Linked DNA regions of Homo sapiens. The protein of the gene in region 1 interacts with the protein of each later gene in a pairwise test. Each region holds a gene or a part of one and is shown in the gene's direction. Other genes may lie near its edges.

Region 1 (3,751 bases):
GTTTTAAGGAGAAAAATGAAATAAAATTTTGCAAATAGGCCACTAAACCTATGCCTAAATTTATGACATTATAGAACAGTTCTGTATAGGCTAGTATTTAAAGAAATACTATTTTATCTGGATTATAATGGTCAAATACCTTTGGGAATTACTAGATTGAACAAAGCTACACCAGATTATTTATTAAATAGGACTTTTTGGAGGCTTTGCTGTTAATATGCATTGTCAACCTATTTATGTGACTCCAAAATAATTTTTTTCAAAGCATGTACTATTCAAGTTCTCTGCATTGTGAATGTGAATAATACTGTGAAATGCTATCATAGGATGATTTTTAATTTGCTAAAAAATTTGTCACTACGTGGATTCATAACTAATACAATCAATTTTTGTTCATAGTCTGAATAGCCAGAAAGCTCAAATATGGGACATTTTCATTACCATAATAAATACTCATAATGCAGTCCATAAAGTACTATTGTAAATCCTGAGTATCTATTAAGAACAGTGGAATTATGATTTCTATATTTTAACATACAGATATTTTAATTATTTTAAGAATTAGTATGCCATGTACCAACCTGATTTGAAACTAGTGTCATTACTTTATAATTTTCATTTCCTCAAGAGAAAATTTTAGCAGAAATGCTTATTAACCTACCTGAAAGTTAATTTTGTGAAAGCTTTTTGTTTTATTTGTGGCTACTAGCATAAATTCAGTGTGATACTGAAATATTAAATTTATTTTTCTGTGTATAGATTTTATTTGGTTTTTAATTTGCTTTAATGGAACGAGTGTTAGTCTACTAACCTGCTCATTTTTTTCTAGACTTATTCAAGTTTTTTTCATATTATCAAATACATTAAATCAGATGTTAAAAAGAAAAAAATCAGTACTGAAGTAGGAAGATTACAGTTCTTAATTTAAGGTTATTAAATTAAGAAATGAAAGGCTTTTTAATTATTTTATTGTCACCATAACATATGTCACTTTATCTAAATCATATTTGATTACTTCTGTGTATAGTATATACTTGAAGCAGCATGTTACGTATCTTTAAGTAAAATTACATTTTAGTTTTAAAAGTAGCTGTCTGTATTGGAAAGAAGCATCCTACTTTTTGTCCCAGTTCTATCTTAGCTTTATTATTCATTAATAACTAGACATTTAAAACCAATCACCCTTTATACCAGAGCAAGGAGAATGATCGTTTCGGTACCTCTCCTTTTTCTTTAGAAACTGCCCTTGGTGCATTAGCAAGGGTCCTGAGAGAAGACTGGAAGCAAAGTGTCGAGTTAGCTACAAACATAATTTACATCTTTTTTTGTTTCTCCAGGTAAGTATAAAAATTATTAAATAAAAAGGCTACTGTATCTCTATTGCTCTTTGTCTGTGTCATTGATTCAATTTGTAGATCACTTGTTCTCTCAGTTTTTCTGTGTGTCTGCCTATGCTCTACTGCTGAATTCTTATTCCTGTTTTCCATTGTCTGTCTTGCTATCTGTTATTCTATCTTTCATTTAGTCTATACCCACTCATGCCTCAGTTTCCTTATGAGTAAAATTTGGATAGTAATAGTGGCACCCTCTTTGGATAGTTTTTTGGATTAAATGAATTAAAAATTAAAATACTTAGAATAAAGCCTGACCCAGAGTAAGTGCTCAGTAAATGTTATTGTTATATATATGCATGTATGTACAAACACATACCTGTTATGTATTGTATTTATTATTTATACACATATATCCTTAAGAAAGAAGATACTTATTAAGACATTATGAAAAGTTTCTACCCAATTCCTAGATAATTGCTGCTTCTGTTCTAAAAATGTGCTAGTATTAGCAAATAAATATTTATTGAATAAATACTTGGATTAATGTATTGTCTAGAAAACATATGTAAAACCTGATTACTAGTACTTTACGAATTCTCTGATGTCAGTTTTATACAATAAATAAAATGTATGTCTAGTATTGCTACATTATTAGTTTTGTTAGACAATAATCTAAAAATCTATTCTGAATATCTGAGTAGTTAATATGGTGGTTAGTTACAAAAAATGTCTACTTTCTAACTTCTTAAAAATAACTATTTTAGGTAAGAGTAGTGTGATATATTTAAAGTAATTTTATAATCGCAAGTCTTCCTAGTGTATTGTGGATATATTCATTTATTAAAATATGTATATCAAATTTATTTTCTACATGGTTCGTACCAGTGATCACCAAAAACAAATTTCCTGTACCCATAAAATGTATTCTTTTAAATATATATTAAAATGTCTTCTTTAAAGCTTTTCTCAATTTCATGGACTTATTACTCACTATAAAATTGGAGCTCTGTGTATGAATATTATTGATCATGAGTTAAAAAGACATGAGCTTTGGCAAGAAGAACTCTCAAAGAAGAAGAAAGCTGATATCCTTTTAGAGTGGCATTTGAACCGTCTGTTGTCTTTTGCTTTAAGTTTTGGATGGGTGGGATGGTTTTGTTCTTTTTTCTTTTTTAAAAATTGTTAATTACATTACTTGGAAACAATGCAGGAGTGTGTTATTGAAGGTTAAGAAGTAGATTGAAACTATCAAAATGAATACAGTTTGATATTCACTTTTTGTCTCTTCACAACCTTTATTAGTTAATGAGGTAGAAGGAGCAGGTAATAGTTGTGTCGGGTAACTTAGTAGGTGAGCCTCTAAGTGGTTACATCATTACATCCACTAAGATCCTTTGGTTAGTTGAAGCCTGGCCCACCACTGCTGCTTATATACTTCTGTGTGAGTACTAAGGTGACTTTGATTAGAATGGGTGTAAATTTGGTGATGAACCTAGTTAAAGGTTCTATTTTTCTAGGAAAGTGCAAAAATACTGTTGTTAATAAATAAAAATTTGAAAGGCCTATAGAATAATAGAACCTGTGAAAGGAAACTTAGGTATCTGTTTTAACCTATCTTACAAATATAAAAATATTTCTGCAACTTCCCTGGCAAATGCTATTACATAGGCTCCTCTTTAACAATGTCAGTGTTTATTTATTTCACCCATTCTGTGGTTTAGCATTCTGTTTATTATAATAGTCTTTTGCTTAGTGCACTGAAGTCCATTCCCCAATAACTTCTATCCATTGGTTCTAGTATTGTATACTAAAGCAATATGGAATAAGGCTATTCTCTTCAACATCATAATTCTTCTCATATTTGAAGATATTTATCATATTTTAGCCTCTAAACTCAATGCTTCTAGATCAAAGGCCCCTGGTTTATTCATATCTGTTCAACCATGATATGTTTTGCAGATCAACTAGGCATGCTGGTAACTTTCCTTTGAATCAAGTGTTTATTATGTCTTTTAAAAAGTGAAAACTTTATTCCTATTTTGCAGAATATCATACATTTTTAACTCTGCTTTGTGCAAAAGTGGACCTTACTTTTATATTAATTTTGGCCTCTGGAAACCCTGAGGCTTCAATTTAATCTATGTTGTAACAGGTTAATTCAGGTTATTGTGTACAAAATCTCTCAGGCTTTTACTGTTGTCACATGGAACTCCAAGACACTATAAAATCCACACCCACACACAAGCTTTGACTTTTCTTAATTAGAATCTTTTCAGGTTTATAAATTTTCTATGCATACCATAAACTTCTGGCATCTAGATTGATAGTGACTCAACTACATCAACAACCCAAGAATCCTAGAGACTTTACATCAGTTCTGGAGTCACAAGACTCCTGAATGCTTCAGTGGTACCCAA
Region 2 (3,751 bases), on another chromosome or scaffold:
CAAGGTGCTGGGATTATGGGCATGAGCCACCATGCCTAGCCGAATTGTTATGTTACACATCTGGAAAAATCACTGCTGATTATTTTGTCTAATTTATTAACCACATAGGAAAAAATTAACAATATCTGCAAAGAAAGCTAATGAAAGGGGGGAAAAAATGAGGCAATTATTAGCTTCAGGAAATACCAAAAGAGGCTGGGTGCAGTCTCTTTTGGTATTTCCTTTATTATTTTATTTAAAAATAAACTTCTTCACTGTAGAGAAAGTGTAAATCAAATTATGTGGGAGTTTTAATGGGCCAGGCCTGAGAATAGCACACATCACATTTAATTGGCCAGAACTTGGTCTGAACTGTAAGGAAGGCTGGGAAATACTGTCTAGTTGTGTGTCCAGGAGCAGGAAGAAATAACGTTTTTGAGAGGAAGTAGCAATATCTGCCACAACAGGCAAAAAGTAGTTGTAGGCAGATGAAGAAGACCATCTCAGGTATTCATTTATTCAAGGAGCAAAACATATTTGTTCAGCAACTACTATTGACTAAGCTTGGTTCCAGGCATGGTGGATACAAGAGTGAACAAATAAAAGACTGCTCTTATGCAGTTTCTATTTAGTGGGGAACAGCAGGTGTAAGTTCCATGGGGGTTGGAACCTGCCCTTCTAGGCCAGTGTGGTTGGAATAGAGTTTTAACGAATTTTGCAGGAAGTAATAAGGACTTCATATTTGATTCTAAGAGCAATGAGACTCCATTAAATCGAGTATTAATCAGAAAGTGGCATGATCTGTTTTATTTATTTATTTATTTATTTATTTATTTTAATCTTTATATCTGAGACGGAGTTTCGCTGTTGTCGCCCAGGCTGGAGTGCAGTGGTGCCATCTCTCTCACTGCAACCCCTGCCTCCCGGGTTCAAGCGATTCTCCTGCCTCAGCCTCCCGAGTAGCTGGGACTACAGGCATGCGCCACCACGCCCGGCTAATTTTTTGTATTTTTATTAGAGACGGGGTTTCGCCATGTTGGCCAAGCTGGTCTCGAACTCCTGACCTCAGGTGATTCACCTGCCTCAGCCTCCCAAAGTGCTGGGATTACAGCGGGAGCCACCGCACCTGGCCGCATGATCTGTTTTAAATAATTACTCTGGCCACCTTATGGAAAATGGATTGTTCGGACAGAGCTGGACAAAAGAATGGAAACAGACCAGATATTTCAGGCAGGCTAGAGATGAGCGTGGCCTGGCCTTGCCTGGGGCGGTTGTGACTGACTGGATTGGGTGAAGGACAGGAAAGCTACAACAAGGGTGCCTATAGGTGTTCGTATTGAGTCACTGGGGGCACCCTAAATGGGAGTTACCTCAGTAGCAGTTTGAGACACCAGTCAGATAATGGATGTGAAAGCTTTTAGAAAGGTTGAACGGCGGCTGAAATCGCGTGTGTTCCATTTACAGATGGGAAACTGAGGCACGAGATACCAGAGGATGGAGTCAGGCCACGTTGTGCGCCACTCTCCCCGCTTAGGTGGGTGAGGAGACCGAGGTGTGTTGGGCCCCCGCTAAACACCAGCACCGACCTGAGCCCCGCCCAGACCCCTCCAGCCGGCTTTCCCTGTCCTCTGCTCGTGTGCCAATAAAGTTATTGAAATTGACACCGGTTGCTAAGGAAGTGGGTCGCCGAGCCAGGTTGCTAAGGAAGTGAGCGGCCACTGTCTCTCCCCATCCGGGGCAGCGGGGAATGGCTGAGCCAGGGGTTCGCCGCCCCCGCCGCCGCCGCCGCCGCCGCCGCCGCCGCCGCCGCCCGCTTTCGGCTCGGGCCTCAGGTGAGTCGGAGGGGCCGGGCGCCCACCGAGCAGGGCTAATCCTGTGGCCGCCTGGGGTTTTCCCTGCGACCTGCGCCCGCGCCTCTGCCTGGCTTTGCTGTCCCGCGAGCCGGAGCATCCTCTGCCCTGCCTCCTAGGCATCCTTTGGTAGTCCGGACGGCCTTGCCCCTCCTTCCCCTGGCAGGGTCGCGGCCCGACCCCCAGACACGGCCACCTTGGGTCGCAGCCCACCTGGGGGCCCTGAGGCGGTGGTCAGGGCCCCAGTTTGGGAGGAGGGCGGGGAAGCGAGAGCCTGGGGTCCGAACCTCGGCGCTGTGCTGGGCTTGCTGTGTGACCTTGGGCAAGTCTTTTCACCTCCCTGGCCTTAGCTGACCTGTTTATTCAATGGGGTCCTAACATTGCTGCTCAGAGTGGTAAAGATAATGAGAAGTGTATGTGAAAGTGCCCTAAATGGGGAGAGGGAGAATTCTTAGGGCACCCTAGATGGGAGACCAAGAGGGCAGTTTGAAGTCTGAGCGAGTTAGAGACGTGGCATTTCCACTTAGTAACTGTGTGGCCCTGGGCAAGTTAATTTCTCTGAGTCTTCTTTTCCTTATCTGTGAAATGAGGTAATAGACTACTGTGGAAATCAGTGAGACTGGGTATGTCAAGTAGCTTGGCACATAGTAAGTGCTCAACCAGCTATTATGAGGCGTCCAGGGTAGGAGGGCAAGACTTCCAGGAGGAGATGACTTTGGGACAGGTAAGGTGTAGGTGTGTAGAGTGCCAGCTCATATGGGTAGTCCTACTGCAATGCCAACCCCCAACCCCGGTTTTACTTCTCCATTCTGCTCAGAGCAAGGGAGGTACTTCTACAAGTAGTCCTGGGAAACTCTTTGAGGTCAACCCCTTGTAGATAGCTGGGGTCATGGTCTCATTTTCTACCTGGGCTTCGTTGACCCTTCCAGAAGAAAAAAGGCATCTTTGTGTCCTTTGGGAAGTGCTTAAAGCAGTAATAACTATTTACAAGCATATGATTAAGAAGCACTTTACCAGGCATATTATTTCATTTAATCTTTATGTAGACTTTGCCAGGTGCCTGGTGATGTCATCCTCATTTTGCCGATGAGGAAACTGAGGTTCAGAAAAGTAAAGGGAAGGACCTGCTTAAGAATCCTTTTTTTTTTTTTTTTTTTTGAGACAGAGTCTTAGTCTGTTGCCCAGGCTGGAGTGCAGTGGCGCGATCTCAGCTCACTGCAACCTCCGCCTCGTGTGTTCAAGCGATTCTCCTGCCTCAGCCTCCCGAGTAGCTGGGACTACAGATGTTCACCACCTCGTCCACTAATTTTTGTAGTTTTAGTAGAGACAAGGTTTCACCATGTTGGCCTGGCTGGTCTCGAACTCCTGGCCTCAAGTGATATACCTGCCTCGGCCTCCCAAAGTGCTAGGATTACATGCGTGAGCCACCACACCCAGTCATTGCCTAAGAATCTTGTATCTATTAAGTGATGGAAGTGGACGTGTTTCTAGGTAAATCCTGTATTTTATCCCCCATTCACTGTTGCCTCTGATTTTGCAACAGTTGCTATTATAAGGCCACAGGGGTATTCTTTTGTTACTTTTAACTGGCTAGAAGTTAAAAGGCAAGGAAACAAGATCTCAGGTAAAGCTTTATTTAAATAGATACCACCCAAAGTGAGGATCTCAGAAAATAGTTGGAATCTTTTTTTTTTTTTTTGAGACGGAGTTTTGCTGTTGTTGCCCAGGCTGGAGTGCAATGGTGCCATCTCAGCTCACTGCAACCTCCGCCTCCCTGGTTCAAGCAGTTCTCCTGCCTCAGCCTCCCAAGTAGCTGGGATTACAGGCATGTGCCACCATGCCCGGCTAATTTTGTATTTTTAGTAGAGATGGGGTTTCTCCATGTTGGTCAGGCTGGTCTCAAACTCCCGACCTCAGGTGAT
Region 3 (3,751 bases), on another chromosome or scaffold:
TATGGTGTGTAAATTATATCTCAGTAAAGCTTGTATGTGTGTATATATAAAATATTGAATGGTGATAGGTACTATGGAGAAATATAAAGTGGGGAGGGAAAAAAAGAAGAGTTTGGGCTGAAGGTTGAAATTTTAAATAAGGAAATCATGTTAGGGTTCACTGGGGTTATGTGAACAAAGACTTTCTGGAGGAGGTGAGTGGTCAGGTGGTTTTTTAGGGAAAGAGCTGTCTAGGCTGCCTGGGTTTGGACCTGGGCTCTGCCATTGTTTATATGTATGACCTTGGAAAAGTTATTTAATGGTCCTGTGCCTCAATTACTTTATCTGTAAAATAATAATAAATAGTATCTATTTCAAAAGGTTATTGTGTGGATTAAATGAATTAAAAAACGAAAGCATGTAGAACAGTACACTGGCACTATGTAAAATGCTTTATCTTTATTTCTATCAGTTCCTACTGCAAGCTCACAGCCCTTGCATGCTAAGATGGAAGCACGACGGGAATGTTGGATGAAGCAAGGAGGCCAGGTGGGGCTGGTGCAGAAGAAGCAAGAGGGAGGATTGTAGGGCTTGTGGCTTTAGCTTTGTAAGATGGGAAATCAATGGAGGGTTTTGAGCAGAGAAAAGAGAAGATCTGATTCATGTTTTAGCACCAGCACTCTGGCTCCTGTCCAGCACACTGAAAAGGGACAAGGACACACAATCAAGGAAACCAGTTCTGAGCGATTGTAGTAATGCACGTGAGAGACGATGGTGGTGGTAGAAGTGGCCAAATTCTGGTTCCACTACAAAGATAGATACAACAGGCTGTATTTAAAGATAGAATATTGTGTATGAAAGAGACTGCAATTTTGACCTGAGCAGTTGTCGGAATTAAGCTCCCACATATTGAGATGAAGAAAGTCTGAGAGGGATGAGAGAGAGCCCTTTTAAATTTTTTGATGGGGGTGGAGTGGGTAGTGGGGCGATTGATGGGGGATCAAGATTTCAATTCTGGACATGATTAACTTGAAATGCCCATTACACATTCAAGTGGACTAGAAAGAGGATGGACGGATCACTGGTTCTTTGACCAACACGTATAAAAATCCCACTCTGTGCCAGGCTCTGTGTGGGCTCTGGAGATAGATGTGAGAATACTAACAATCTCCTTAAGAGAGCTCACTTTCTAATGGTAAGACAGGTCATGAGGAAGTTAGCAATCAAGCGAGGTCAGGTAGGTAAGGTCTTCAATTCTTCGGATGAGACAAAATGTACAATTGCTATTACTGATTTTAATATTCCGGGTATTGCAAGGGCCAGAAGACGGGCCTAAGAGCAGCTCCTCCTCCCAACCCCGGGCTGCCAGGTTACCTCCGCCTCAGTGCGTGCCACATTTCTAGCGCAGCAGAATGGCAGCATTGCGCACGCGCGGCCTCAGTCTGGCGTCCTAGGAGATGGACTCGGAAAGCCTCCGCGCAGGCGTAATTCAAGGGCCGAGAGAGCCTGAGACTGGGCTTGGGGCGGGGCGAGCTCGGAATGCGGCTGCGCACTGGGCGCTCTCGCCCGAGAAGCCGCAGTCTCGAGAGCGTCAACGAGGTGTTTCGGTAGTCTCTGGCCATCCTTTCTGCGCACCCGGTGTCGCTGGGCTGCACCCCGGGCGGGGACGTCCGCCGGGCACGGGAGGGGGCCAAGATGCCGGTGAGGAGAGTCGCTTCGCTTCTGGGGTTTCTTCTCATCCTAGCGGCCTGGCCCGGGGGCGCGGCCGTTGCCATGGAGGCGCGGAGCCGGCAGGCGGCCTGGGTGGGGCGGGGCAGGCTCGGTCGTGCGGTGGAGGTGGTTGGAGAGCCTGGCTGGTCAGCCCCGGGGCCGCGGGGGTCCGGCCGGCCTCGACAGGGACCTGGGGTCAGGCCCTGCCGCCCTCGTCGCTGCTGCATCCCGTGGGGCCTGCGCCGCTTATCAAAAAGGCGCTGTGCTGGAGGATGCGCTCTGGCTCGCAGCCCTTCCTGCTGAGCGGGGCGTCTGGGGGTGGCCACGGTGGGGCTCTTTGGATGCTGCACACCTGGTGAGGCCTTTGCGCCTCGGAGCAAGCGCAGGGAGGCAGCGGAGCGAAGGCTGCCTGCCCCTATTCCAGGCCCCATACTCCGAGTCTCCTAGCCTTGAGCTGTCATTGCTCTTGTGGCGCTTTAGCTTATGATGCAGAATGAAACCCGTAGGTGTCTTTGTGTGTGTGGCGGTGTTATGTTTATCTTCCAGGATTTCACAGATTGTTATCGTGAACTTAATAATGGGGCCTTCTAAGACCCCTTATTAGGGGTCATGGAGGAAAATTGAGCCATGGCCGCTTATTTAGTGGTTGTGAGGCCTCGGATAATTATTTAATCTGTCTGGGTCCTTAGTTCCCATGTAAACTTTACCTCATGGGGTTGTTATCCGCGTGAAATAATACACAGGAGACTAGAAGGACAGTGCTTGACATTTAAGATTAAATGCTCTATATTTGTTCTGTTCACTGCTTTCAAGTTTTAATTCAGTAAATATTGGGCACCAACCACATGCTAGGCCCTGAAGATACAACATTGAGCAACACCAGTCAGGTTCTTGAACTTGGAAAGAGAGAGGCTTGCCTTCTTGGGCAGAGGTGAAAATCATACATATTTACAGACGTAAGACACAAAACCTTAATAATGAAGTGGGTGGGTATCCTACAATAGAGAGAAGTAGATTCTGGTGAATTGGAATGTATTGCCATGTAAGAATGATGGTCTGCAGATGATAACAGGTCATTTTTTTTCCTCCCAAGAAGAGACTTTAGAAATTATTTTTGTGAAATTTCTCAATTTTAGCAACTAATTCAAAAGCTCTTTAAATACTATGAACCAAACAAAAGAAATTTGTGGGCTGAATTCAGCCTCTTGACTACCTGTTTGCAACCTCTGGTGTAGACAGAAAGACATTAATCAAATAAGGAACAAGCAAAAGTAAAATTTGTGTCCAGGAAGGGGAGAGCAGGGTGCTCTCTGAGCCTATAAGAGTATTTGACCTAGTCAGGAAGTCTTCCCAGGTGAAGTGGCTGTTGAGTTCTGAAGGATAAGTAGATGTTAACTAAGTGAAGAGGGGATTGAAGATGGTTCTAGGTAGAAGGAACAGCACATGGAAAGGCCAGTGGTGAGGAGCATGGTGACAAGAAAAGGCCAAGCAGCTCAGTGTGGCTGTGGCATGGATGAGCCAGGCAGAATATCTTGTGAAATAAGCCCAGTGAAGCAGACGTGGGTGGAAGCCAGACCTTACAGACCACCTTAAGGATTCTGGTTTTTGTTCTGAGATCTATGGGAAACCACTGAAGAATTTTTAAGTAGGAGAGTGACATGATTAGATGTGTGTTGACACTGACTGCTATTTGGAGAATAGGCAGTAGGGCAATCTGATTAGATTCAGGAGTATAGTTAGGAGGCAGTAATCCAGGGCCAAGATGATGGTGATTTAGACTAGGGTGATGAATAGATGAGAGGAATAGGATGAGAGATAGATAGAAGTGTATTGTACTGATATAATCTGTTACTTGTCAGTGACAATGTCAGAGTCAATGACAATGACTCATATTTGTTTCTCTTCAATGCTTAGAAGAGAATCTGAAACAGTAGGAATTTAACAAGTATCTGTTCAACTAAACTGTCCTTTTCACTTCAATAATAGGATTGTGTTTCATTATATTTTCTTAATCATAAAATTTCAGAAATGACGGGGTGCGGTGGCACATGCCTGTAATCTC

What was found.
Region 2: the proteins of KIFAP3 (region 1) and KIF3B interact in binary tests that used the Homo sapiens proteins (3 or more experiments, as listed by UniProt).
Region 3: the proteins of KIFAP3 (region 1) and KIF3A interact in binary tests that used the Homo sapiens proteins (3 or more experiments, as listed by UniProt).

The regions. Positions count from the first base shown.
Region 1 is NC_000001.11:170,033,040-170,036,790, reverse strand, and holds part of KIFAP3 (kinesin-associated protein 3), read left to right. Parts: intron 1-1,237; coding exon 1,238-1,337; intron 1,338-2,294; coding exon 2,295-2,419; intron 2,420-3,751. UniProt on the Homo sapiens protein: Involved in tethering the chromosomes to the spindle pole and in chromosome movement. Binds to the tail domain of the KIF3A/KIF3B heterodimer to form a heterotrimeric KIF3 complex and may regulate the membrane binding of this complex.
Region 2 is NC_000020.11:32,275,955-32,279,705, forward strand, and holds the start of KIF3B (kinesin-like protein KIF3B), read left to right. Parts: upstream 1-1,696; 5' UTR 1,697-1,811; intron 1,812-2,163; exon of another isoform or gene 2,164-3,751. UniProt on the Homo sapiens protein: Microtubule-based molecular motor that transport intracellular cargos, such as vesicles, organelles and protein complexes. Uses ATP hydrolysis to generate force to bind and move along the microtubule. Plays a role in cilia formation.
Region 3 is NC_000005.10:132,735,343-132,739,093, reverse strand, and holds the start of KIF3A (kinesin-like protein KIF3A), read left to right. Parts: upstream 1-1,547; 5' UTR 1,548-1,674; coding exon 1,675-1,680; intron 1,681-3,751. UniProt on the Homo sapiens protein: Microtubule-based anterograde translocator for membranous organelles. Plus end-directed microtubule sliding activity in vitro. Plays a role in primary cilia formation. Plays a role in centriole cohesion and subdistal appendage organization and function.